Homo sapiens: one gene and its partners. The protein of the gene in region 1 interacts with the protein of each later gene in a pairwise test. Each region holds a gene or a part of one and is shown in the gene's direction. Other genes may lie near its edges. The genes, in order: STX6, MTERF2, VAMP4 and TIMMDC1.

What was found.
Region 2: the proteins of STX6 (region 1) and MTERF2 interact in binary tests that used the Homo sapiens proteins (3 or more experiments, as listed by UniProt).
Region 3: the proteins of STX6 (region 1) and VAMP4 interact in binary tests that used the Homo sapiens proteins (3 or more experiments, as listed by UniProt).
Region 4: the proteins of STX6 (region 1) and TIMMDC1 interact in binary tests that used the Homo sapiens proteins (3 or more experiments, as listed by UniProt).

What each region holds. Positions count from the first base shown.
Region 1 is NC_000001.11:181,012,846-181,019,871, reverse strand, and holds part of STX6 (syntaxin-6), read left to right. Parts: intron 1-7,026. UniProt on the Homo sapiens protein: SNARE promoting movement of transport vesicles to target membranes. Targets endosomes to the trans-Golgi network, and may therefore function in retrograde trafficking.
Region 2 is NC_000012.12:106,984,143-106,992,141, reverse strand, and holds the start of MTERF2 (transcription termination factor 2, mitochondrial precursor), read left to right. Parts: upstream 1-4,995; 5' UTR 4,996-5,173; intron 5,174-5,832; exon of another isoform or gene 5,833-6,916; 5' UTR 6,917-7,027; intron 7,028-7,999. Other genes in the region: CRY1 (cryptochrome-1), read left to right, coding at 141-204. UniProt on the Homo sapiens protein: Binds mitochondrial DNA and plays a role in the regulation of transcription of mitochondrial mRNA and rRNA species.
Region 3 is NC_000001.11:171,732,045-171,739,070, reverse strand, and holds part of VAMP4 (vesicle-associated membrane protein 4), read left to right. Parts: intron 1-607; 5' UTR 608-656; coding exon 657-722; intron 723-7,026. UniProt on the Homo sapiens protein: Involved in the pathway that functions to remove an inhibitor (probably synaptotagmin-4) of calcium-triggered exocytosis during the maturation of secretory granules.
Region 4 is NC_000003.12:119,515,547-119,522,572, forward strand, and holds part of TIMMDC1 (complex I assembly factor TIMMDC1, mitochondrial isoform 1 precursor), read left to right. Parts: intron 1-1,658; coding exon 1,659-1,769; intron 1,770-7,026.

The sequences.
Region 1 (7,026 bases):
TTTAATTGTTCCAAACATACATAAAAGGTTTTTGATAACTGAATTGCTATCAGTTACCAAGTTTACATTAATTAAAATTTAATTTCTGTCACACTAGCCACATTTCCAGTCAGTAGTTGTATGTGGCTTCCGTGTTGGACAGCACAGTGTAAGCTTTTCTAGAGTCCTAGACAGGTGTACCCTACTTAATATTATTCAGTGGCTGCTGCTGGCCTGCAGAATAAAGTGCCAACACTTCCTGACCTCACTGATCTAGCCTCTGCTCTCCCTTAGCCTTAGTACTCCAGCAGTGCCAGACTCAATACAGTGACTGTGATTGCTGTACTGGATGCTCTTACTCTACATGCACCCACACTGCCTGATTCACCCACGCAGCTTTCTGGAGTCAGTGTAAGCATCTCCCTTGCCTCCAGGAAGTGCTTCCTTTGTCACCCCTAATTATTGGACCTCTTCCTCTGTCTCTCTTTCATTATTAGACTATGAGCTCTGAGGTTTGGGACTGTTTTTTTTTTTTTTTTCCTCTGTATTTCCAGCCTACACCTTGAATATATAGTGTAAATGTTGAACACATACTCTTTGTTGATGGTGGTGATTGTGATGGAATGGTGCCTCATGGGTGAGAACACCACCAGCCAAAGGCCTAAGTTGGGCAATGTGTGTTAGAAATGATCTGGAAGAGCAGCCCAGGTGGAGTAGACAGTTTAGGGAAGTAGTAACAGCTCACATTTAAAGGATGCATCTCCAGTGCCAGGCATACATGTAAAGTGCTAAGTAAGCACTTTATATGAATTTTCACTCTGTAAAAACACCCATATGATGAATACTAGCCACATTTTAGAGATGAGAAGCTGAGGAAGTGTTAGAGGGGTTAACTTACTTGCCTAGGGTCACACAGCTAATAAGTGGTGTACTCAGGCTTCAAATTAGAACAACCTGATTTCACACTACTGTCAATACTTCCCAGTGCAGGTAAAATAGGGTCAAGTTATGTTGGCCTAAGGAGAATCTCATCTTGAGGCCATTACAGATTTTTAAAGCAAGGAAATGACATGAAATTAGGATTTTAGGAATATTGATTTGGTGGTAGTGTTGGATGCATCAGTGTGAGGAAAGATGAAAAAGGAGACCAGTTAGAAAGCTGTTGTAACTTATACATGCAGTGGTTAGTGCTTGGAAGTTTGAAGCTCCTTTTGGGAGGTTTTGACATTGTCAATGTCCTGTTCGGAACAGAATCCCACAACAGGGATTGCTCTTTTATCCTTATGAAGTAGGTATTATTATTGTCATCATTTCACAAAAAGGAAAATGAAACTTAGTAAAAAACTTCAACTTTATAAGCTTGTACGTAGAAGGGCCAGGATTTATATATTTATTACAAATATATATTATATATATAATATGGTCATTTTAAAAATTGGGATTATACGTTATATATGGTTTTATCACTTTTTCTTTTCTTTTTTTTTTTTTTTTTTTTTTTTTTGGGACAGAGTCTTACTCTGTCGCCCAGGCTGGAGTGCAATGGCGATGGCGTGATCTCAGCTCACTGCAACCTCTACCTCTTGGGTTCAAGCGATTCTCCTGCCACACCCTCCCAAGTAGCTGGGACTACCAATGTGCGCCACTATGCCTGGCTAATTTTGTATTTTTAGTAGAGATGGCATTTCACCCTGTTAGCCAGGCTGGTCTTGAACTTTGACCTCAGGTGATCCACACACCTTGGCTTCCCAAAGTGTTGGGATTATAGGCATGAGCCACCGCGCCTGGCCTGTTTTATGACGTTTTCATCTGTATTTCTTTATATCCTTCAGACTTCTGGGTGGCAGCTTTTAATGACTGCATTGTATTTTGTCATATAAATGTTCATCCTGGAAGATACATTATATTTATGATCACACTACAATTAATGTGGTGATAAGCCTACTTGTCATAGGTCTGTATTGCTGCTTCTGATTTTCATAGCCTGTATTCCTGGAGCATAATTGCTAATTCAGAGGGCAGGCACAGCAAAGCGTTTGATGCATACTACCACGTTGTCCTCCAGAATATTCCCCCTTGCCCCTCAAAGTGTTTGAGGGACCCAATTCCCTTGATTCCAGTACTGGGATTTTCATTAAAAAAATCTTTACTAATCTCCGGGTGAAAATATCATATTTAAATCTTGTAGTCTTCATCTTTGTATTCAGTAAGGATGTACTCAGTGTTTGTTGAGTGAACCCATTTTGATTGTTTAGTTCTGTAGTTTTTTTCCTCCCTTGTTGGCAAGTTTTTAGAATTAGCCTCCTTTTAGAATTTGCACCTTCTAATCAGACAAACCCTGAAGAAAACCATGTAACTGAGCATGTGGAGACAGAGTATAAGTGAGCCACTCCTGTGGATAAAAGGTACAAATACCATGGCTCTTTGCTATTTTATTGCTGTGGAGGTTTTGTGTGTCTGATGAGGATAGTTTTTTGTTTGTTTGTTTGTTTGTTTTTTTGAGACGGAGTCTCACTCTGTTGCCCAGGCTGGAGTGCAGTGGCGCGATCTCGGCTCACTGCAAGCTCCGCCTCCCGGGTTCACGCCATTCTCCTGCCTCAGCCTCCTGAGTAGCTGGGACTACAGGTGCCCGCCACCACGCCCAGCTAATTTTTTTTTTTTTGTATTTTCAGTAGATACGGGGTTTCACTGTGTTAGCCAGGATGGTCTCGATCTCCTGACCTCGTGATCCTCCCACCTCGGCCTCCCAAAGTGCTGGGATTACAGGCATGAGCCACTGCGCCCAGCCGAGGATGGTTTTTTTGTTTGTTTGTTTGTTTTTGAGACAGAGTCTCATTCTGTCACCCAGGCTGGAGTGCAGTGGCGCGTCTTGGCTCACTGCAACCTCCGCCTCCCGGGTTCAAGCACTTCTCCCTGCCTCTGCCTCCCGAGTAGCCCGCCATCACGCCCGGATAGTTTTTGTATTTTTAGTAGAGACAGGGTTTCACTGTGTTTACCAGGCTGGTCTTGAACTCCTGACCTCAGGTGATCTGCCCGCCTCGGCCTCCCAAAGTGCTTGGATTACAGGCATGAGCCACCGCACCCAGCATGATAACAGTTTTATTTCCAGGTTTTTGGCTGTGGATTGATGTTGAAATAATGACATAAGTAAGCTGATGAGTAAGATGGTATATGTTATGTTGTGTTCTTTAACCTTCTCTGTCTGCATATCTAGCTTTATTAACACTAGATTATGAGCTCCTCGAGGGCATCACGCATTCTATTCACTGTTGAAAAACTGTATTGGTATAGTCACTGTGAAAAAAATAACCCTTGTTTGTTAATTTTGGCCTAGTAAAATTGAATGTAAATCAAATTTAATACTTTCTAAAAAGCAGAATCCAGTGTTTCGTTGTAAGAACAAATTTGCAAGCCTTTATTATAAATTTGAGTGTTTAATATTATTTAGCTCCTTAGTTTGGAGAACACTATGCAGATAAGTGAAAGATATATTGTGTAAGATTTTGCAGTAGAGTTGAGATGCTGTGGAGATTGAAAAAAAAAGAAAGACCCATGCTGGGAATGCTGGTCAATCTGGGCCTTAAAGGAAGTGTCTGCTGAGGTGTAAGGCTCTTCTAGGCTGGGGAAACAACTGAGTGGAAGTCAAGAACCAGGAATGAGAAAGATAAAGATGGGAAGAAGACCTGCCAACTGAAACAGAATTTGTTCAGTGAGAAACCATGCTTGATACTAAAGTCAGCCAGTTTGGGTTAGGAGGAGGAGTGGGAGAGGGTTTGAATACCTGCCTGAGGAGTTTAAATTTAATCTGATTTCTATCATAAATTCTAAATCAGGAGGCAGTTTTTAAACTAGCAGTTACTATTCACTTGCTTATAGTCAGCTTTTAAGGGTTCAAACCCAGATCTTCTGATTCTACAAAGAAAACAGATTTGTGGGCCAGGTGCGATGGCTCATGCCTGTAATCCCAGCACTTTGGGAGGCCAAGGCAGGCGAATCATGAGGTCAGGAATTCGAGACCAGCCTGGCCAACATGGTGAAACCCCATCTCTACCAAAGATACAAAAAATTAGCTGGGTGTGGTGGTGGGCACCTGTAGTCCCAGCTACTTGGGAGGCTGAGGCAGGAGAATTGCTTGAACCCTCTTTTGCAGTGAGCTGAGATCACGCCACTGCACTCCAGCCCTGGTGACAGTGCAAAACTCCCTCTCAAAAAAAAAAAAAAAGATTTGTGTGGAAGTTTTGGAAAAATGCAATTAAATAAGTCTTGGTAATAGAAAGTGTCTTATAATCAGGGTTGGAAGAACTTGAGGCAAGCAGCCAATATGTCTGAGCCCCAAGGTCTCTTATTTATGTTTAAGGAGCACAAACTAGATTATCTTGAAAGTTCTTTCCAGATCTGAAAATTCAGTGATTGGATTTAAGTAGAGGTTGTGCAAGGTAAGGAGGAGGAGGAGTCAAAAATGACTCTTGTCTAGACAAGTGTTGAAACTTGGAAAATGGTGGCACTATTGGCTAAAATGAGGAAGCTAGAAAGGGAAGCAGATTTTTCTATTTTGTTTGTTTTGAATACATTATGTTTTGTAGGGAGGATATGATTAATTTGGTTTTAGGCAAATGGAATGATCCTATAGGCAGCTAAAAATATAGGAATTAAGCCTGGCTGAGTGGTTAGGGTTGGAAGTATAGTGGGGGAGTCATCAGCTTAAGAGGGGTGCTTTGAACTTGTGAATGCTGATGAGCACATAGAGGCCACAAAGAGTACTGAGAAACATTGGGATCCAGTGGAGGAAGAGGAAGGAGAAAACTGGTAGAAAACTAGAACAGCACAATGTCACAGAGACAGAGAAAGTGAGAGTTTCAAGCAAATAGATATAATGGGCCATAGTGTCAAGTGCACCAAAAATGAGGACAAGTTAAATTCACTCGTGACTTTGACCTGCAGTGTCATTGGTGGAGTTGTGGAAGCAGCAGTAAGTTAGGGTCAAAAATTGTATATAATTGTAGGTAACTGAGTAAAAATGATGTTTCATTTTCACAAGAGTAATTACAAAATATGTCACAGTGTGGTTGAATTTGGAAATGGCAATAAAGTCAAGTAAAGGGTGTGCATGTGTTTCCTTTCAAATACAAACGATGTGAATGTAGAAGTCAAGCAATAAAAAGAGTTCCTCTCTTTCTGGAGAGATGAGTGGTGAAACCAGGTTTGTGGGGTATGGGGCAGGAACCAGTTGGAGAAGAGTGAGGAGTGGGAGTCTGATGTGTTGCAGAGGCTCACTCAACCTGAATTTTTCATGTTTCATTACTAGAATGGAAACTTTCAGCCTTGACTAGCCTCTTTTACTGTATTGATGAAATGGGGATCCCTCTGTAAAGACTTGCAGAGTAGGTGCTGTCCCAGATAAAAGAGTTGTGGCAGATTGTATTTTTTCCATTGATGGCTGCACCAATAAATGTTCTGTCCTGTGTTGCTTTTCTTTCTTTTTTTTTCTTTTTTTTTTTTGAGATGGAGTCTTGCTCTGTCTCCCAAGCTGGAGTGCAGTGGTGCAATCTCGGCTTACTGCAACCTTCGCCTCCTGGGTTCAAGCGATTCTTCTGCCTCAGCCTTCTGAGTAGCTGGGTTTACAGGTGCATGCCACCACACCCGGCTAATTTTTGTATTTTTAGTAGAGACGGTTTGACTGTATTGGCCAGGCTGGTCTCGAACTCCTGACCTGGTGATCCACCCACCTCGGCTTCCCAAAGTGCTGGGATTACAGGCGTGAGCCACCACGCCCGGCTGTTTGTTTTTATTAAATTGTGAAGCTGGCATTCTTTTATCAAACTGGAGTTTGTATTCCCTTCCTTTGAACCTGGGCAGACCTTTATAAACTGCTTTGACTAGCAGATTGAAGCAGAAGTGACGCTGCTTGACTCCTGAAGCTTAAGTCATAAAAGACAACCACTATACCTTCCATCTGCATCTTTCATCTTGGAACACAAGTATAGGCTACCCTGAGCTAACATGTAACAAGTCCAGTTACATTGAAGCCACTCTGTTAGAGCATGTGTGCAGACTGTGGAGAGATAGAGAGATGTGATGCCTTTACAGCCCCAGCCTGTTTAATATTTTCAGCTGAGGTCCCAGACATTGTGGAACAGGGACAAGTCAGCTCTGCTGTGTCTGATTCCTGATCTACAGACTCCATGACATGATAAATGGTTGTTTTACACCACTAAATTTTGGGGTCATTGTTAAACAACCACGATAACTAGAACATGCCAATTCAGAGTCTGCCAGCATGGGCAAAGAAGAAAGGATAAATCAAAACGATGAAGGGGGAGGCCAAGGCAGGAGGATCACTTGAGGCCAGGAGTTTGAGATCAGCCTGGGCAACAGCGAGACCCTGTTTCTACAATAAATAAAAAAAATTAGCTTGGCGTGGTAGTGTGCACCTGTAGTCCTAGCAACTTGGGAGGCTGAGACGGAAGAATCCTTTGAACCCAGGAATTCGAGATTACAGTGAGCTGTGATTGCACCACTGCACTCCAGCCTGGTTGACAGTGAGACCCTGTCTCAACCACAACAGGAAAAAGGATGATGGGGGTTGTGGCTACACTTACGCAATTTGTTGGTACAACTGAATGACAAATACTGGGGAACAAAGCTCCCTAATGGCTGAGATACTCTTTCTTCTCATTTTACTTGGCAAACTTGGTTAGATGCAAGTAAGAAAACTTTGTGATTTTTTTTTTTTTTGGACTGTATTTGGACTGAATGTATTACTTGTGGCCCCAGAGGCTAGTTTGGTGATGTACCATATTGGGAGGTTGTATGGAAGAGGCTCAACTATCTGACGAGGGATCAATGTTGGGCTAACTTCAAAAATAAATGAGGTTGGTTTGCCAGAATCAACTTTTTATTTATGAAGAATGGAAGAATTGGCTGGGCGCGGTGGCTCATGCCTGTAATACCAATACTTTGGGAGGTCAATGTGGGTGGATCACCTGAAGTCAGGAGTTTGAGACCAGCCTGACCAACATGGAGAAACCCCGTCTCTACTAAAAATAC
Region 2 (7,999 bases), on another chromosome or scaffold:
TATTGCTTAGTTTTTTTATGTCAACCTAATTAGACTATAAGTATCTTGAAGATAAGGTCAATAAACACTCATCACATTTTTGTCATTGAATTATTTGCAATCAAGCTTTACCTAGTTTTTTTTTCCCCCTTAAATCACAGAAAACATTCAGGAGGAATACTGTTGCAGCTGAAATTGGTGGGGAGTTCAATACTTTTCAATTAAGTTATTTAAAAATATTCTTCATTGATGGAAAGCAGTTACATATTGAAATATGTTGTTTCTAATGACATTTCTGTGGTTTTTAACTTTTTAATGAATTTCACAGAGGACAATTGGTAATTTGTATATAAAGAACTTGGCAAGAGAATTTGCTTAATGTAAATATAAACAGTCACAATTAGTATAGACCCATCGATATATTTTTGATAATTTTTCATGTATGGTAAAGTTAAAATGACAAATTGATATTCTGATATAAAACTCAAAGTTTTGAAGTCAGTGGGAAAAAAGGAGGTTTTTAGACTTTCTTAAAAGACGTTAAAATTTTAGGACAGAATTTTCTTGATGTTGTTTGATCTAACTTTGCACTCTTTGATAATAATGTTTTAGATAATGTGCGTAATCCAAATTGGTATTGTAGCCTCTGTTAACACAGACAGTATATGTTTTAAACTTTGATGTAAACCTTTTTAGACCCAAACTTGTGGAAGTATCATGTGTTAAGTTCTCTGTCTCTGTTTCTTTGTTCATTTATTACTAAAATGAACTTGTTATTAAAGTATATGCAAATATGAAATCTTGTGTACGTGTTTTTTTTTCTTTTTTGGTAAGGGAGAGAGTATTGCTGTATGATATATGATTACAAATTACAAAGAGATTCTATAAACCACATCATCATTTTGAAGGAACAGCTACCATATGTTTAGTTAAACAGTGTTTTTCAAAATTATATGCAAGAAAGAGGTAAAACTAAAGGGACTTTTTTCAAGTAATGGCATTTGTAACCATAAATCAGGCAGTATGGGCTAGCAATCAATAGAGTGAGCTCTCGAGTCAAATGCCCATTTCTGCCATTCATTAGCTTTGAGGTCTTGAGCAAGTTTAACCTTCTATGTCTTCTTTCTTCTTATCTATAAAATAGGGATGAGGGTAGTATCTGCTTTATAGTTCAGTTCCATGTAAAATACTTATGAGCTGGCATGTGATAGGGTACTCAGTGTTAGCCACAGGGCTGCCATGCTGTGTCACCCCCTGTCGTGTACAGTGCACAGTCTGCATAGCTGTATGCCACAGCTCTGGTTAGCTGCCATTATTTTTATTAGTATTGTTATTATCCCTTTAGTGTTCTCTAGTAGGTTAGTTCTTGCCATTCTGAATTATAACCAGTGGCTTTTCATTTTCCCATCATTAATCATGATAGATATTTAGTATGATAATTTAAAGATAACTGAAGATAAAAGTTGAGTAAAAATACAGAAACGATAACATTTTAGATGATATGCATTTTTAAAAATATCCTGGATAGTGAATTAACAATGATCAATAAATTCCATTACTGAGGCTAGGTGTGGTGGCTCACGCCTATAATCCCAGCACTTTTGGAGGCTGAGGTGGGAGGATCACTGAAGCCCAGGAGGTCAAGGCTGCAGTGAGCTATGATTGTGCCACTGTACTCCAGCCTGGGTGGACAGATCAAGACCTCATCTGAGCTGGGTGTGGTGGCTCATTGCCTGTAATCCCAGCACTTTGTGGGGTTGAGGCGGGAGGATCACTTAAAGCCAGGAGTTTGAGACCAGCCCTGGAGACTTAGCAAGACCCCATCTCTATTTTTAAAAAATCAATATAAAAATAAAAAAAAAGTAAAGAAGACCAGGCAGGGTGGCTCATGCCTATAATTCTAGCACTTTGGGAAACTGAAGTGAAGCAGGAGAATCACTTGAGGCATGAACCCAGGAGGCGGAGTTTGCAGTGAGCCGAGATCACATCACTGCACTCCAGCCTGGGCGACAGAGTGAGACTCTGTCTCAAAAAAAAAAAAATGATTAGCCTGAACAACATCTTGGGACCCCATCTCTACAAAAGGAAACAACAAAAATATTAGCCAGGTGTGGTGGTGTGCACTATGGTCCCAGCTACTTGGGAGGCTGAGGTGGGAGGATGGCTTGATCTAGGGGATTTGAGGCTGCAGTGAGCTATGATTGCACCACTGCACTCCAACCTGGATGACAGGGTGAGACCTTGTCTCGGGGATGGGGCGGCAGGTGGGAAATCCATTACCGAGAAAAAGAATAAGAAAAAATCCTGTGCTTTATCGTTCTTTTTTCACCACTGTTAAAGTGAAGTAATATTTTAATTGTTTTTTATGGTAAGTGTACCTCACATCCTACTCTTTGGACCTGGTTGTACAGTGCAGAGTTGAGAAATTCATAGACCTGAGATTTACCATCACCGTACAAGAGGTCATAGATTTCAGTTTTCTTGTTGTTATTTTGAGACAGAGTCTCACTCTGTCGCCCAGGCTGGAGTGCAGTGGCACGATCTCGGCTCACTGCGGCATCTGCCTCCTGGGTTCAAGCGATTCTCCTGCCTCAGCCTCCCGAGTAGTTGGGACTACAGGCGCGTGCCATCACGCCCGGCTAATTTTTTGTATTTTTTAGTAGAGACAGGGTTTCACCGTTAGCCAGAATGGTCGCGATCTCCTGACCTCATGATCCGCTGGCCTCGGCCTCCCAAAGTGCTGGGATTACAGGCATGAGCCACCGCGCACGGCCAAAGATTCAGTTTTAATGTGAATAAATAAACAGTAAAAGAACACTATCTCAGCATAAGCACTGGTATGCTATTTATAAATGTAAGAGGATTTTTTTTTTATTAGGGAGTTTTTTGGAAAGCTTTTTCAGTTTGGTGTAAATAGTGGTCAAAATGAATCACTGAAAGGGAAAGAAAAGGCATCAGTCATCATGCTCTACTTGAGCAGATACATGATGTTCGAATCAGTGTTCTCCCCTTAACTAGAAATCCTACTTGTGGTTAAGGGATTTAAGACATTTTACTCATTCAGCAAATACTTCTTCAATTCTTATTGCCAAAAACTGTACTGACAACTTGGGAAAATTATATTGAGAGAACCAGGGTTTTGAATGAACTGTACAAAGTCCTTATGTTTTTCATATTTGCTTAAAATAAATAAGTAAATTTGAGATATAAAAGTCTATCAGTATTTTTAATGCATCTCTTACATACTAGAAATTTCAGGATCTTCTCACAATTCAAATGTGTTTGTAATTTTCTTGTACATAATATGCATAATTGTAAGTTCTTTTCCCCTTTTCTTCATTCAAGGTTTTTTTTCTGATTATATGGTCCTAGAAATGCACTGTTTAAATATTTGGGCTGGAAAAAACTTTGAGTAGCATTTATTTAATACAGTTGGCATAGCTGATTTGTCAGTTTCAAGTTTTGATTACAATGCACGGGGTCATATGTATTGTAATTCCTTGCACAATTACGTGGAGCCCTAATACAAGCTTCCAGCACCCTGGTGCACATTTCTGCTCCCTCCCTCCTGACCAGTGATGGCAGCTTGCAGTTCTAAGTCCTGAGTTTACATTCCTTAACTTCCTTTTCTGTATCCTAATTTCCTTTTCCTAAGTGCAAATGACACACTTTGGTTAGTCTGGACCCCAAATCATTTTATTTCAGGAAAAAGTGTGCAATAAATCTATGCATAATAGAGTTTTTATATTCGGATAACTCAGGAGTTGCTGGACAAACACCCCCCAGCTGTACACATGAGTTGCTCAGATCATTCTAGAATATCCTAGAGATCAGAGGTGGGTGATCTTGAGGAGCCAGGATTCTTGCTGCTACTCAGTGGAGTTAAATGCACGTGTGAGCTCCTCTCAATATAGCCTGTTGAGCCTAAACTGCATAGTGAGACTAGACTCAAAGATTTAGTTAACATTTCCTGAGTTCCTACTGTGTGCCCAGCATTGTTGACAGAAAAAATAATCAGTAGCCTCAAGGAATTCACTCCACAGGGTGCGAGGGCAGTCTGTATGCCAGTGCCACCGACGGCAGAACTGTGCACAGTGTGCTACGAACACCTGACAGCAGACACCTCCAGCTGGGAAAACCAGTTTTCCTGACTCCAACTCCACACAAACAGAATCACCAGGCCCAGCTCAGGGCACCCTGTCCTCGATAACACTTAACTAGGTGTGATTAGTCACGTTATTAGTTGTTGATATCTCTGCCCTCCACTAGAATGTAAGCTCCATAAGGACAGGGAATGTGTTTTATTCCCCCTCTATTTTCTCATTGCTGTTTCAATATGCTTGGCACTTAGCAGGCCTGCCATAAATACTTGTTTTTTGGATGGATAAATGTGAAAATAAATGAGAGAGACATTCAGCCTGGCTTTAAGGAGAAATTAACGTGTTTAGTGTATGAGGTTGGGCATCACCGGTAATAATTAGAATGGAAACCACTTGGCAGTTTATCAGAAAAGGGGAGTATTTAGGTGAAGGTGGCAAGGAGGGAGAGAAAGGAGAATGGCTTTTAAAGACAGTCGCTAACTGCTGGGGTAGGGTGGGGGCGGGGAAGAGTTCAGATGTGTTTCAAAGAACTTTGGGGGTTTTTTAAACATTTCTTTTGTAAGTTGGTTCTTTACCTAACTGAATTATTTTGGGAACAGTGATTGGCTCTATCTTAAAGATATAGCGGTTTCTGTTACTTCTTTTTTTTCTTATATTTTCTAAGCGTCAAAGCTACTGGAACTCCGCTTCCTAAAATGCTGGGAAGGAAAGGGTGTGAAAATGCCAGATGCCCCCGCCAGCACAGGCTGGGCTGCCTGGAAAGCCGATTCCCACTCCGACTCGCCCTCGTGGTGCGGGGAGGGACGCGTAGTTGTGTCCCGCGCTCTGACTGGCTGCGTTGGGACGCGGGGGCGTGTCTTGGGGGGGCGGGGGTTGGCGGTCATCTCCCGAGCCCTGATTGGCCATGGGCGAAGGGACTGATGGCCTGGTTGGCGCTGCTGAGAACTGTCGGGAGCTTCTTGAGACCGAGGACCGAAATCCCGGCTCCAGGCCTCGGGGACTGCGGACTGTGGGGAGGCTGGCCGGAGAGAGAGGGAAGGACGGGGCCTGGCCCCCGGGACTCCCTGTGCCTTGCTTGGAGCTGACGCCGACGGGTGAGTCGCCCCCTTCCTCTGCTCCTGGGCGTGTTCCTCACCAGCGGCGCCGCAGCGGTCAGGGCCCGCAAAACCCCACGCCTCGCCAGACGCTCAGCTCAGCCTGCCGGGTTTCTCTGGAAAAGCGGAGGCCCCACAGTGAATGTGCGGCCTTTTGATCGGTCCTGGAGATCTTCCGTGGACCCTCGTTTTTCCTTGCTTATAAACGTTGGTCAATTTGAAACTGGCAGCAGGGCATATGTGTTACGAAAGAAGAACTTTATTGAAACCAGTGGTGGTGTAGAGAAGACCATACTAACCATAACTGTGTATTACAGAAGTGAATTTCACTCCCCAAAAATGCTTAAGAAACAAGCATCCTAGAACAGCCCACATTGTGATTTAACAAACATTTACCAAAAGCATTGCTATATGTGGGGGCACAGGGCTAAGAGCAGGCAGGACTCTGGAGCCAACCTGTGGGGTTTGAGTCCAAATTCTGCCGGTTTTTTGTTTTTTGTTTTTTTTTTTAGCTGAGTAACCTTGGGCAAGTTCCTTTACCTGCGTCTGTTTCCTCATTTTAAAATGAGTTGTTGTGATGATTTAATGATTTAGTATATGTGAAGAGTTTTCTGCATATTCTAAGTGATTTATGGTATTAACTCGTTTGATCTTTGCAGTCACCCAGGAGATAGTATCACCATTTTCCTGATGCCAAACTGAGGCTCAGAGAGGTGAAGTAACTTCTTCAAGTCACAACACAACTGTTGTCCAGGAATCAGGCAGTCTGGCTCTGCTAACCCAGTTTTACCCACTGCATTAATGTACCGCATCCACTTGTTCACTCAGTTTCACCTGACAAATACTAATTTTGTCTCTCTGTGGAACAAGTTCTTTGCTGGGTGCAGGGAATAAAGCAGAACACCGTTCAGTTCCTGCCTTCCCAACGCTTGTAAATCTAGTGCAGGTCATTCATGGCCGGGCTGCAGGGTGTCCATGAATCCTGCTAAAATCATTTGCGAAATGTTGTGAGCGTGGGTCTTTTCTTCTGGAAAGAGAGTCTGTGACTCTCAGGTTCTGAGTTGATCTGTGATCCAAACAGAGGTGTGAAGAAGTGTTGTTTTAGCAGATCTGTGCCTAGTATGCCTGATACACAGCTTGAACTTCAAACAAACAGCAACAAAATTCCTACTGGTTGGAAGAATGAAGAACTTGTAAGAGCATAATAAGTGCTGCAGTAGCGTCCGGAGCAGGGTGCTGTGGAAGAGCACACAGAAGGCCACCTGCCCAGGAATGCCTCCTAGAGGCAGTGAAGGCAGCTGGGTGAAGGATAGGGAAGCAGTTCATTGGAACACTGTGGTGACCAGTCTGTCCATGTAGTGTTGAGACAGAAACAACACGTGAACAGCTGCAGCTGTTGTACCACTTGTGCGCAAGTGTAAAAGTCCATGGTGCCATGAAATCATGTAATGGGGACAGGAGGCTTCATGTATTCGTGAAGGTTAGAAAAGTTTCCTTGAGAAAGTGACACTTAGGCCTAAAAGTTGGAGCATTTTGGGCATGGAATCTGGCCCACAGTCTTCAAAGACCACATGGTAGAAACCAGTAGAGCACCAGGGACTGACAGGAAGCAAATGCAGCTGGTGCAGGAGAGGGAAATGGGAATTAGGGTGGTGGCAGAGCCCAAAGAGGCCTTGTAGGCCATGGTAAGGCATTTCTATGTTTTATTTTACTTTGTCTTTATCCTAAAATGCCATTGGCAAGTTTATTGCAGGGAACTGACAAGATCACATTTTGAGAAGAAGTTGGAAAGAATCCCAAGTGGATGAACTGAATATCTGGATGAGGACAAGATCTGTGGGGAGAGACTGTAAGGTAAGAAGAAGAGAGGTCTAGAACCAAGCCTTGAAGGTGAGCTTGTATGGGAGACAGATAGAGGGTGGCGAGAAGTATAGAAAGGGAGAAGAATCAAAAAAAGTCGAGTGTCCAGGAAGTCAAATGAGAGAATATTTCAAGGAGAAAGTGGTCAACTCTGCTAAAAGCTGCAGAAGTCAAAAGAGATAAGGAAGGCTGGGTGTGGTGGCTCATGGCTTGTATTAGTCCTTTTTCATGCTGCTGATAAAGACATAGCCAAGACTGGGCAATTTACAAAAGCAAGAGGTTTAATGGACTTACAGTGCCACGTGGTTGGGGAGACCTCACAATCATGGCGGAAGGTGAAAGGCACATCTCACATCGTGGCAGACAAGAAAAGAGTGAGAGCCAAGCGAAAGGGGTTTCCCCTTATAAAACCATCAGATCTCATGAGACTTATTCACTGTCATGAGAACAGTATGGGGGAAACCACCCCTATGATTTAATTATCTCCCACTGGGTTCCTCCCACAACACAAGGGAATTATGGGAGCTACAATTCAAGATGAGATTTGGGTGGGGACACAGCCAAACCACATCACGCCTGTAATCGACACTTTGGGATGCCAAGGTGGGCAGATCGCTTGAGCTCAGGAGTTCAAGAGCAGCCTGGAAATGTGGTGAAACCCCTTCTCTACAAAAAAAAGAGATAAGAATGAAAACTACTCATTGGCTGTAACCACATGAAAGTTATCTTTATCGCAAGCTATATAAGTAGAAGAGGAAATGGAGAGAAAGAAGGATCTGCAAGAATTAGCTGAGGTGAAGAGAAAGATAGGGTTTGGGCAGGGAAAAGAAGAGCAGTGGAGAGAGAGAGGGTTTGGGCAAGGACAGGAAGAGCAGTGGAGTGATGGCTGGAGCATCAGAGGAGGATACACCTGAAGGAGCAAACACTTGAGAAAGGGCTTGAGAGTTCTCAGGCCAGAGAGGCTGA
Region 3 (7,026 bases), 9.3 Mb from region 1:
ATTCCAAGGATATGTCAGGAAATGGGGATTAAGACCAAATGAGTATATTTTGTAAATCACGATATCACACCAGTACTTACCAAACTTACCCCTTTTCATGGAGTACCAATGGGACATTATAGTTTGCAGAATATTTTTGCATGTATTATCCAATTTGACCGTCCCAACTCTGCAGAAGCCTGAAAATCAGTATTTTACACCTGAGGAAACTGAATCATTGCTTAAGCAACCAACTAAAAGTGAGAGAAATAGGCATGTTCTCCTGTCTTCTGACTCCAACTTTAAATTGTAAAGCATTTAATGTCTCAGTGAGACGTCCTCCCTCTACTCTCTGCTCTTTCATTTTATAAAAATCTTAAATCACTCATATCCTACACATGTTCTCTTAGGGCAATTACATCCATTTTCTCATAATTTTAACTATTTCTTAGGTGTTGAGGTCTAGCATGGAGGCCCCAGTCACTGGAGTGGAACAAGTGAGAGGGCAGGAATTGAAGTCAGAAAAATGAGGGAGTCCCTGTCATACAGGGTTTCATGTACACTGTTTTAAGTACATTAGCTTATGCCCCAAAGTCTCAAATCTGATGAAATTTATTTTCTCTTTAAGGTGGTGACTATCCTGTTGAGAAGCAAAAGATACTTTGCAAGTAAAAAATATGCCTCCCAAGTTTAAGCGCCACCTCAATGATGATGATGTCACAGGTTCTGTGAAAAGTGAAAGGGTAAGTTCGGAATCTTAAGCTTTAAAAACAAAAGATTCAAAATATGTTTTCATTCCCTTTGTGAATAATAGAAGAAAAACCATCCGGGCGTGGTTGCTCATGCCTGCAATCGCCGCACTTGGGACGCTGAAGCAGAATAGCTTGAGCCCAGAAGTTCAAGACTGTCTTGGACAACCCAGGGAGACCCTGTCTCTATAAATAATTTTTAAAAAATTAATGGGGCATGGTAGCACATGCCTATGGTTCCAGCTATTCAAGAGGCTAAGGCAGGAGGATCACCTGAGCCTGGGAGATGAAGGCTGTGGTGAACTGTGATCTGCACTCCAGCCTGAGCAACAGAGCAAGACCCTGTCTCAAAAATTAATTAACTAATAATAATAACAACAGAAAAATCAAAAGCTTATGACTATATTCTAATCCTAATTGTTTTCTTCATAGCAAATGTATTTAAAAACATGTTACTTAGATTGGTGACAACTGAATTCTACTTCCATTATTGATCAAATCATTATTCTCATAGCTTCTTTCTAGTTTTTGAAAGGGAGTTTTATACAAATACACAATATCTTATTCAGAACTTTGAATGTATTTGGAATTTTTCAGATTTTAGAAAGTTAAGAACATATTATGTAACAGCATTTTTGGGGCCTGGACCAGTGCCTCCAAAAATATTAATATTTCTCAGTGAAGTCTATATTTAGTTATATCTAACTAACTATGTAAATAAAGTGTGTAAATAAACTAGCTAACATCAGTTCAGGTCAAATTTTCCTCCAAAACTTTTTGATTTTCAGAAGCTTTTAGATTTTGGAATTGCAAATAAAGGTCCCCAGACCTGTAATTATCTTATGTTCCAGAGTATCTTTTATATAATGCTTCAATTTCTAGTTTATTCCAGAACATTCTATGCAAATATATATAAATCTAGAAATTATGCCGCATTTAAAAGACAACATTTTATATGAATGTTGTAGGCAGATTACTTTTAGAATAAGTACTCAATACATATTTATTGGGGGAAATAATTCACGTTCTTATTTTTTTAATGCACCATTCTGAAGCCCTCCTTCCTTTCCTTCTTGTCTTGATTCATTCAACAAATATGTATTGACCACCTCCTATGTGCTAGGCACTGGGCTAAAAATTGGAAGACATAGTCTGTGCCCTTGCAAAGCTTTTAGTCTGCTTTGTTTTACATGCTCTTTTTGGACAACCTCAGAACTTCATATTATCCACTCTGTCCACCATCTTATGACTTTTAGTCATAAGTTTCTTTTAGTACAACACAGGAAACATTTTCTTCCCCTTATTCTAACCCTTTGTACAGCTTTTGCGGTTTTGTGTGTTTCTGATGGTTTGTTTTTATTTTTTGAGACCAGGGTCTCGCTCTGTCATTGAGGCTGAAGTGCAGTGGTGCAATCACAGCTCACTGCAGCCTCCACCTTTTGGGCCCAAGCTATCCTCCCACCCCAGCCTCCTGAGTAGCAAAGACTACAGGTGCATGATATCATGCCCAGCTAGTTTTTGTTTTTCTCGTAAAGATGGGGTTTTGCCGTGTTGCCCAGGCTGGTCTCAAATTCCTGAGCTCAAGTAATCCACCTGCCTTGGCCTCCCAAAGTGCTGGGATTACAGACATTTGACACTGCACTCGGCCTGTTTTGTTTTGTTTTGTTTTGTTTTGTTTTGTTTTGTTTTGTTTTTTAATGGGGAAATAGAATCCACCAATAGATTAATTGCTAGCAAGCTTTTACTAATAAACTTTAAGGAGTCACCAATGATTTCCATGTTGCCAAATCCAGTTACTCCTTCTTTGCCATAATTTCAACTGCTTACTAGCATTTGGTGCAGTTTCAACCATTTTGGTCACCTATCTTTTCCTCCATGCCATGGTGAAACTCTTAGTGTCTGCTTGAGCTAGTTCCCCATGCAAGGAATTGAGAAATGCCTTGAAATATACCAAGTCTGGGTGAACCCGGAAGGCTCTGGCCGAGAGAAGGCAGAGGATGATCAGGGATTGAGAAATCACTCAGGGATAATCCAGGGTCTCTTTCTTTAATGTAATATCTTTCAAGATAAACCTCCAAGAAAAAGTGATTCAGAAAATTTGATATACCTGTGCTGGAATTCCATACACTGAAGATTTACTATCAAAAGCATGTCTTGGCCAGGCGTGGTGGCTCGCGCCTGTAATCCCAGCACTTTGGGAGGCCGAGGCGGGCAGATCACTTGAGGTCAGGAATTCAAGACCAGTCTGGCCAACATAGTGAAACCCCATCTCTAGCAGAAGTACAAAAATTAGCCAGGTGCGGTGGTGCACACCTGTAATCCCAGCTACCTGGGAGGCTGAGGCAGGAGAATTGCTTGAATCTGGGAGGCAGAGGTTGCAGTGAGCCGAGATTGTGCCATTGCACTCCAGCTTGGGTGACAGAGTGAAATTCCATCTCAGAAAGAAAAAAAAAGCATGTCTTTACAAAGCAGAAGGTTTGGCGAAATACTAAACCCATTCAGAGAATAAATGTCAATTTGTTAAAGTAAATGATACCAATTGTGAACCTATAAAGGAACCCAGTGTAAAACAACACAGACTTGATATGCATCCAGTAAAAGCTGACTGAAAGCTCCTGATGAATATTCAGTGATCAGCGTGCACAAAGCATGCTGAAATATTTTTTAAATCATCGGTTAGAAGAATCTGAGCCTCTTTCCTATTGCCCCAAGGAAATCTTTAGTCACTTACCCAGAGATGCTTGCAAAGCATTAATATCCTGGAAGATGATCAATAAATGCTGACAGTTGATTGACTGATATCTGAGATATGTCAGGTAAATACCTCAGTCCTGGACAGAGAGCCCCTAAGTCACATCTGCCTTTGTGTAAGATGAAGACTGAAGTATGGAAATGTATGTAGTAAAATCACCTCTCGGAACTTGTTTGTAATTCATACAATCTATGTCAATTTTGAAAAATGTATGTAAAGCAGAGAAGGTTGTAGCCAAATTCAATGTATAGTATGCAAGAGTATATTATTTAATAATTTTTAATTGATGCAAATCCCATTAATTTTATAGTTTTATTTTTACATGATTTTAAACTGAAACTATTTATATTTCCTAAGTTCCCCTGTGTTTCTTTCTCACAATCACTGCTGAACGTAAATTTGTTGTTCACTTAATGGAATCACTGTTAAGGACACAGTCACTTGAATATGATTGCTTTTTAAAAATCAAGTCCAGGCGTGATATACTAGGATCACAGTTTCATGGCATGTTGGTCATAATCCTGAGAAAATAGTGACAAAATTATTATTTGTAGATATTAAATACCAGTTTAATAATATGTGTGGAAATCAGATTAAATAGTACATAAAGCCCACCCTAATAACAAGGGCAGGAAAAATTACTTCAAGAAAAACAATAGTAAACCTTAAATTAAAAATAATACAAATAAATAAGCTTTATGAATACATTTTTAAATTTAAAATGTATTGTCTCAATAAATTCCACTGCTGAGACTGTAATTGTATCACTTTCTCCTTATATTCTTCATTGATTATTAGTATATTAGACACCAGAACTGAATAAAATTGACTGTTTCAAGAGAACTCCTTTTTGATGTTTATTATATTATGAAGTTTGATAACTGATTGGTTAGAATAATATATAAATTACTTTTAAAATCTTTTAAAAGTTTTGTTCCTCTTTCCTATTATACTTTTTTGGTAATAGCTTTATTGAGATAAAAGTCACGTACCATACAATTCACCCACTTAAAGTGTACAATTCAGTGAGTTTTATTATATTCACAGAGTTGTGCAACAATCACCACAATCAATTTTAGGATATTTTCATTAGCCCAAAAAGAAATGCTGTGCCCTTTTGCAGTCATCTCCCATTTTCTTTATCCCCTCAGCCTCTAAGCAACTGCACTCCTATAGATTTGTCTATTCTGGACGTTTTCTGTAAATGGAATCATATAACATATAGCCTTTTGTGACTGGCTTCTTTGACTTAGCATAATGTTTTTAAGATTCCTCAACGTTATAGTGCATATCAGTGCTTCATTTTTTTTTTTTTTTTTTTTTGAGACGGAGTCTCCCTCTGTTGCCCAGGCTGGAGTCCAATGGTGCGATCTCGGCTCACTGCAACCTCCACCTCCTGGGTTCAAGTGATTTTCGTGCCTCAGCCTCCCAAGTAGCTGGGATTACAGGCGTACACCACCACGCCCAGCTAATTTTTGTATTTTTAGTAGAGATGGGGTTCCACCATGTTGGCCAGGCTAGTCTCGAACTCCTGACCTCAGGTGATTCACCCACCTCGGCCTCCCAAAGTGCTGGGAGATCTTCATTCCTTTTTATTGCTAATAATATTCCCTTATATTGATATAACACATTTGGTTTGCCCATTTATCAGTTCATAGATGTTTGGGTTTTTTTCTACTTTTGGCTATTTTAAATACTACTGCTATGAGCATTAGCATACCAGTTTTTGTTTGAGCATGTTTTTATTTCTCTTTGGTGTATACCTAAAGGTAGAATTGCTGAGTATTGTAGTAACTCTCTGTTCAGCCTTCTGAAGAACTGCCCAGCTGTTTTCCAAAGTGGTTGTACAATTTTTACATTCTCACCGGCAATGTATGATGATTCTAATTTCTCCACATCCTCACCAACACTTAATATTATCTGCCTAGTGGGTATGAAATATTATCTCATTGTGTCCTATTATTCTTTTTTGACACTGTATCCCTAGCACTTGTGTTTATTCAATTAATATATGAAAAAGCATTGGTTTTCATGTGTGTTTCTCAGTGTACAATTATAGTAAACATATCTTTAGTATCATTATCCTCTAAACCAAATAAATTATTACTATTACTATTATCATTATTATTTTGAGACAGGGTCTGGCTTTGTCACCCAGGCTGGAATGCAGTGGCACGATCAGGGTTCTGCAGCCTCCTCCTGGGCTCAAGCAATCCCCCCAAGTAGCCTTCAGAGTAGCTGGTATTACAGGCATACACCACCACGCCTAATTTTTTTTTTTTTTTTTTTTTTTTTTGTAGAGATGGGGTTTCACCGTATTGCCCAGGCTGGTTTCGAACTCCGGGGCTCAAGTGATCCTCCCTCCTCATCTTCCCAAAGTGCCAGGGTTACAGGCGTGAGCCACCATGCCCGGCCATAAACCAAATACATTATATTATAAATGTAATGCTTGTCTGTTACTTGTTAGCTAGAATATTACTCAAGAAATATTTATTTAAAAAATGACCTAATGCATTTCCTTGAATATTAATTGGTTTTGAACATTTCATGTGGTCATTGGCCATTTCTTCTATTGGGAATTATCTATTTCTATTCTTTGTTTTTCTATAATGTCTCTTTTTCTTACTAGTTTGTCAAAGCTTTTTATATAATACAGACATCAGGTCTTTTGTCTTAAAGGATACTGCAGATGTTTTTTCCCAGTCTGTTGCTTGTTTTTTAACCTTGTTTTTGATGTCTTATGTTCAAGTTTTAAATTTTTATATAATCAAATATGTTAATCTTTTTCTTTCAGACTTCTGGAGTTGTGTGTTGTTTAGGAATAACTTACCCATCTTAAGAGTTAACTATTTATATATTTTCAATCTTTGTGATTTCATAACAAAATATGTCTAAGGTCCCATTTTCCTTTAAGTACTGCTGTGGCCATACTCTTCAGATTTTGACCTGTGATCTTCCCAGTGTCTTTCATTTCAAAATAGTCTAATCACCTTTATTTACATTTAACATAAAAGTTAATGAGAAGGATGTTTTTTGTTTTTTGTGAGGTTTTTTGCTACAGGGTCTCCTTTTGTCACCCAGGTTGGAGTGCAGTGGCATGATCATAGCTCACTCTAACCTCAAATTCCTGGGCTTAAAAGATCCTCCCATATCAGCCTGCTGAATAGCTAGGACTACAGGCATGAGCCACCATGCCTGGCTAATTAAATTTTTTTTTTTTTTTTTTTTTTCCCATAGAGACACGGTCTTGCTATGTTGCCAGTGCTGGTCTTGAACTCCTGGGCTCAAGTGATCCCCCCACTTTGGCCTCCCAAAGTGCTGGGATTACAGGTGTGAGCCACTGCACCCAGCTGAGAAGAGTATTTTAAAACTTCCTTTTTCCATCGCATTATGGTCAGAGAATATGACTTGTGTAATTTCTATTTTTTGGAATTTATTAAATGTCCTTTGTGGCTTACCCATAAAGGAAAATAAAATAAAATTTGCTGTCTAGTTTCAAAGTTCTAGATTTTTTTGTGTGTTTGGCTTCTCCATCTCTGAAGGGTA
Region 4 (7,026 bases), on another chromosome or scaffold:
AATATAATCATGGGCATAATATATTCACAGTTGAGGGATTAGGCAGGATATTTGGGGGGACCACTTTAGAATTCTGCCTACCACACTTGGTTAAGGTGTTATCTGTTCAGTGTCTCCATTGCAAAGATATCTTTTTCCCAATGTGATTAATTAGTAATCTGGAGGGTGAAACTGAATATTCTGCTCTCCAGCTATCTTTTCATCATGTGTTTTTAATGATCCATTGACGACCCATGCTGTAATCGGTTGGTTACTAGAAAGGTGGTTGTAAATGTTGATAAGCTAGTTCTGTCAGTTCTTCTGTTTTTATTAGTTGGTATTTGTCTGACTAGAAGAGTGCTACCTTCGTCCTCCACCTGTTCACCCCTTTGTCTACCTCCTTTGAAGGAGAAGGTAATGCTATAGATTTAATGATTTTTTTAAAAATTTGAATTAAATAAAATCAGCATGTCATAATCTACTGCTGCCATTGCTTTTGTTGTAGTGTTAATATACCAGTTTGGTTTGAAGGGAAAAGTTGTAGGAGTTAGCAACAAAAATATTTTTTATTGTGGTAATAAACACATAGCATAACATTCACCATCTTAATCATATTTTAAGTGTATAGTTCAAAAATGCTAAGTATATTCACATTGTGCATGAGATCTCTAGAACTTTTTTATCTTGAGAAATGAAACTATATGCATTAAAAACTAATTTCCCCTCCCCATACCCTCCAGCCCTCAGCAAATATATTTCTACTTTCTGTTTCTAAGATTTTGACTACTTTAGATACTTCATATGAGTGGAATCATACACTATTTGTCCTTTTGTGACTAGCTTATTTACTTAGCATAATAATGTCCTTGAAGTTTATCTATGTTGTAACCTGTTGAACGGATTGCCCTCTTTTTTAAGGCTGCATAATACTCCATTGTATGTGTATGTTACATTTTCTTTAACCATCTGTCAGTGAACATTTATGTTGCTTCCACTTAGCAAAAATAGTTATTAGTATGAGGTTACTTAAATTGTAGCTGGAGGAAATTTAAGGTGTATGAAGGTCAAATACTTCTAGTCTGAGAACACAAGAACCAAACTCTCTTCATCACTATAATAATTATTATCTAAATCAGTTTCTCAATGGGTTGCTATTGGCATTGTGGGTGAGACAGTTACGCCAGACTCTTGAACTTCAGGATATTTTGGTGGTCCCACCCCCAAAAGCCAGTAGCATCCCTCCCTCAACCAGAAATGCCCTCCACATTTCCTGTCTCCTAGAGGAGCTGGTGCCATTCTGAACTAGAAATTTCATTTTTGAGAAATCTTTGGTGTGGGGCTACTTACTAGAACTTGTCATAAATATATATATTTTTCCTCTTTGTTTTGATTTATTTCTCATTCCTCATAAAAACAGCCAGTTTCTAGATCTGTTGTTTTATTATATATCAGTTAACTTTAGGAGGTTGTAGTGATTGTTTTTGTCTGTTGTTCAGACCAAGGAAGAGATTACCTCAATGTTTTTCTTTATTTGACAAGGACACTTTAATTCTCAAATGTTCCTGTACCTAATAGTGAACAAGTGGCTCTGGTGTTGCTCACACCTTAGCAGAGAATCTCACATGTTGCAAGGTCTAATGACTCGTTTTTCCTAAGCTTTCCCTCTCCTTTCTTCTCAGCACTCCTGTAGGAGGCCTGCTGATGGCATTTCAGAAGTACTCTGGTGAGACTGTTCAGGAAAGAAAACAGAAGGATCGAAAGGCACTCCATGAGCTAAAACTGGAAGAGTGGTAAGGAACATGTTGAGCCCAGGGAATCTTGGCTCTCTTGCCCCAGGCCTTATATAGTGGTGCTCTTTTAAACTTATGTACTCTAAACTGCCACTCAATTCAAAGAAGAGTTTATTTTTACCAAGTCCTTCAACTCATACTGTACATTGTCTTTTAATCTATTTAAGGAGAATGGAAAAATGAAAGAGATTGATTTTAGTTTTAATTTAATGAAGATCTTTCTTTGGATATCTTTTTAAGTTAAAAGTGGTGTAAATCTTGCTTGCATGTTTTTTCTTTTCCTGTGTTCTTAACTGCATAGGAAATTACCTAAAGGGAATATTCACCAAGGAGTGAGCTTTACCTGGCTTACTTAAAAAGTGACATCCTTAGCCTAGCAGGGTGGCTCATGCCTGTAATCCCAGCACTTTGGGAGGCCAAGACAGGTGGATCACCTGAGGTCAGGAGTTCGAGACCAGCCTGGCCAACATGGCAAAACCCCATTTCTACTAAAAGTACAAAAATTAGCTGGGCATGGTGGCACGTGCCTGTAGTCCCAGCTACTCAAGGAGGCTGAGGCAGGAGAATCACTTGAACCTGGGTAGCGGAGGTTACAGTGAGCCGTGATTGTGCTCCAGCCTGGGCCACAGAGCAAGACTCGGTCTCAAAAAAGAAAAAAAGTGACTTTTTTTTTTTTTTTTGCATACATATGTAAGTAAGACACAGCATGTTAAGTCTCCACAAAAATTCTATTTCTTGCTGTAGATGCAGAGGAATTAGGTGGACAATGGTTGTTCATGCACTGAATGCCACTGAGGAACATGAAAACTTTCACCTATTGCATCTAATCATCTCCTGGGATGCAATTTGTGGGATAGGGCAATCAGACTGATAGCTGACTTTGCACAGATTCAATATGTAAGATGAATATAACAGGCTGCCATCTAGTGCTCCTGAGTACAAATGATTTTCACTAGTTCACCTTCCTGGGTACCTAAGACAGCATTGGCTGCTGCTGCTGTTGCTGTTTTGGTATTATAATTGGATAGATGAGAAATCATTTTTTTCCAGTGTTTTCATTTGAAACCTCCATTTCTGCTAACCACACACACACAGACACACACACGGAAATTCTTAAGAGCTGTAGGTCCATCATCCAAGGACTTAAGTGCTATATGAGAAGAAAAGCATTGAGGTTGCAGTGAGCTGAGATTGCGCCACTGCACTCCAGCCTGGGCCACAGAGCAATACTTCATCTCAAAAAAAAAAAAAAATTAAAAAAGTAAATGAAACATTAAAAACTGCAGAAGTTTGTCAGTGATTTAGAGATCAGTGATTTTGAGATGGAAAAGCTTAAGAATGGCTGGCTATGGCCATTCTAAGGTCATTCACCTGGAGTCTTCCACCACTGGCAACCCTGCCAATTCTAGTGGCTGAGCTGCCACGTGCACCCCCTGAAGACTGGCTCATCCAGGGTCCACTGCCACCATTTACCTCCCCCCATCAGTTTAACAGCAGATTTGCCAGCAGAAACCTTACAAGTCAGGAGAGAATGGGATGATACATTCCAAGTGCTAAAAGGAAAAAACAAACAAACAGACAAACAAAACCCAAAAAACTCCTGCCAAGAGTATTATACCTAGCAAAGCTATTTTTCCAAAATGAAGGAGAAATAGTCTTCTCAAGACAGGCAAACACTGAGGGAATTTATCACCACTAGACTGCCTTATAAGAAATGCTTAAAGAACTCCTACATCTGAATGCAAAAGCACGGTAACTACCATTATGGAAACGTGAAAGAATAAAACTCACTGGTAGAGCAGATACAGAAAGGAATCAAACCTTATAATTACAAAAATCTACCAACCATGAAAATAAGAGGGGAAGAAAGGGGAACAAAGATTATACAAAACAACCAGGAAACAGTTAACAAAATGACAGGAGTAAATCCACACCTATCAATAACAATGTTGAATATAAACACTTTAAATTCCCCAATTAAAGATTTAGAGTGGCTGAATGAATAAAAAAAAGTTTAAAGACTCAACTATATATACTGACTACAAGAAACTCACTTCACCTGTAAAGATACAGATAGGCTGAAAGTAAAGGGATAGAAAAGGATGTTCATGCAAATGGAAACCATAAATGAGCAGGAATAGCTATACTTATGCTAGATAAAATAGGCTTTAAATAAAAAACTATAAAAAGAGACAAGGTCATTATATAATGGTAAAGAGATCAATTCAGCAAGAGGAAATAACAACTGTAAATATATATGCACCCAACACCAGAGCATCCATATATATATATATCTAAACAAATAATATTAGAGCTAAAGGGAGAGATAAACCCTAATGTAATAATAGCTGGGGACTTCAACACCACACTCCCAGCACTGGACAGATCATCTAGACAGAAAATCAACAAAGAAATATCAGACTTAAACTGTACTGTAGATCAAATGGATCTAGCAGACATTTACAGAACATCACATCCAACAGCTGCAAAATACACGTTTTTCTTATCTTGAAGTGTTCTTCAGGATAAACCATATGTTAGGCTACAAAACAAGTCTCAACAAATTTTTAAAGATCAAAATAACATCAAATATTTTTTCAGACCACAGCAGAATAAAACTAGAAATCAGTAACAGGAAGGACTTTGGAAACTGTGCAAATACACAGAAATTAAATAATATGCTCTGGAACAACCAATAGGTCAATGAAAAAATTAAGAAGGAAATTTAAAAATTTCTTGAAACAAATGAAAACAGAAACACAACATACCAAAACCTATGGGATACAGCAAAAGCATCACTAACAGGGAAGTTTATAGCAATAAATGCCTCCATCAAAAAGTAGAAATGTTTCAAATAAACAACCTAACACTGCACCTCAGGGAACTCGAAAAGCAAGAACAAACTAAACCCAAAATCAGAAGGAAATAAATAAAAAGATCAGAGCAGAGCTAAGTGAAATAGAGACTTAAAAACAAACAAAAAAACACAAAAGAAGAACTAAATGAAAAGTTGGTTTCTTGAAAACAAAATCAAGAAACCACAAGTTAGAAAAAAGACCCAATTAAGGTAAAAAACAAAAAAGGAGACATTACAACTGATACCACGGACATAGTCATATCATTAGAGATTATTATGAAACAACTGTATGCCAAGAAATTGGAAAAGCTACAGGAAATGGATACATTCCTGAGCCCCTATAATCTATCGAGATTGAGCCAAGAAGTAATAGAAAACTTGAACAGACCAATAACAAGTAACAAGATTGAACTGGTAATAAAAAGTCTCCCAACAAAGAAATGTCCAGGACCACATGGCTTCATTGCTAAATTCTGCCAAACAGTTAAAGAAGAATTAAGACCAATTCTCAAACTGTTCCGAAATATTGAAGATGAGAGAGTTCTTCCAAACTCATTCTACAAGGCTAGCATTACCCTTATACAACAACAAACAGACAAAGGCTCATTAAACAACAACAACAACAAAACCTACAGGCCAATGTATTCTACAAAACAATCCTTAACAAAATACCAGCAAACCAAATCCAAGAGTACATCAAAAAGATTATACATCATGAACAAGTGGGATTTATCCTAGGGATGCAAGGATGGTGCAGCATACACAAATCAATAAATGTGTTACATCATATAAACAGAAGGAAGGAAAAAAACCATATGATCATCTCAGTAAATGAGAAAAAGCATTTGGTAAAATTGAACACCCCTTCATGGTAACACCTCCCAAAAAGTTAGGGGTAGAAGGACTATTTCTCAGTACAGTAAAGGCCATATATGTCAAACTCACAGCTAATATCATACTGAACAGGGAAAAGTGAAAAGCTTTTCCCTCAAAGAACTGGAATGAAATAGGAATGCCCACTCTTACCAGTCTTGTTCAACATAGTATTAGAAATCCTAGCCAGAGCAGTTAGGCAAGAAAAAGAAATAAAGGGCATTGGAGGCCAGGCACGGTGGCTCACACTTGTAATTCCAGGACTTTGGGAGGCCGAGGCAGGCGGATCACTTGAGGTCAGGAGTTCGAGACCAGCCTGACCGACATGGTGAAACCCCATTTCTACTAAAAATACAAAAATTGTCATGGTGCACACCTGTAATCCCAACTGCGTGGGAGGCTGAGGCAGGAGGATTGTTTGAGCCTGGGAGGTGGAGGTTGCAATGAACCAAGATGGTGCCACTGCACTCCAGCCTGAGTGACAGCATGAGACAAAAGAAAATTAGGCACAGTAGTGCATGCCTATAGCCCCAGTTACTTGGGAGACTGAGGCTGAAGGATCCCTTGAGCCCAGTAATTCAAGGCAGCAGTGAGCCATGATTGTGCTACTGCACTCCAGCCTGGGCAACAAAGTGAGTCCCTGTCTCTTTAAAAAAAAAAAAGTGGGCGGGGGAGCTTGGGGGGAAACTTGTATTTCTCAAAAAATACCTACAAGTGCTAACAAGTATATGAAAAAGTATTCAACATAACTAATCAGGGAAATGCAAATCAAAACCACAATGAAATGTGGTTTGGGGACAGTTTGGGAAATTGGAGTGATATTTATCCCAATTAGAATGTCTATTATCAGAAAGACAAAAAATAAATTTTGGCAAGGATGTAGAAAGAAAAGGGAACTCATATACTTTTGGTAGGAATGCAAATTATTACAGCCTTTATAGAAACAGTATGGAAGTTCCTCAGAAAACTAAAAATAGAACTACTGTAAGATCCAGCAATCTTCCCTACTAGGTATTTATCCAAAGGAAAAGAAACCAGCATATCAAAGAGTTATCTGCGCCCCCATGCTTATTGTAGCACTATTAATAGCCAAGGTATGGAATCAACGTCAGTGTCCATCAACAGATGGATGGATAAAGAAAATGTGGTATATATCCACCATAGAATACTATTCAGCCATAATAAAGAATGTAATCCTGTCATTTGTGGGAACATGGATGAGCCTGGAGGACATTGTTATGTAAAATAAGTCATACACAGAAAGATAAATACTGCATGTTCTGTTGCTCATGTGGGAGCTAAAAAATGGGCTCATAGAAGTAAAGAGTAGAATTATGGTTACTGGAGGCTGAGGAGGGGACAGGGAAAGGCATAAGAAGAGGAGATTTAAGGGATTGATTAATGAATACAAAATTATAACTAGATCGGAGGCATAAATTCTAGTGTTCTGTGGCACTGTAGGATGACTATAGTTAATAATTTATTGTATATTTTCAAGTAGCTGGAAGAGAGGATATTTGAATGGTC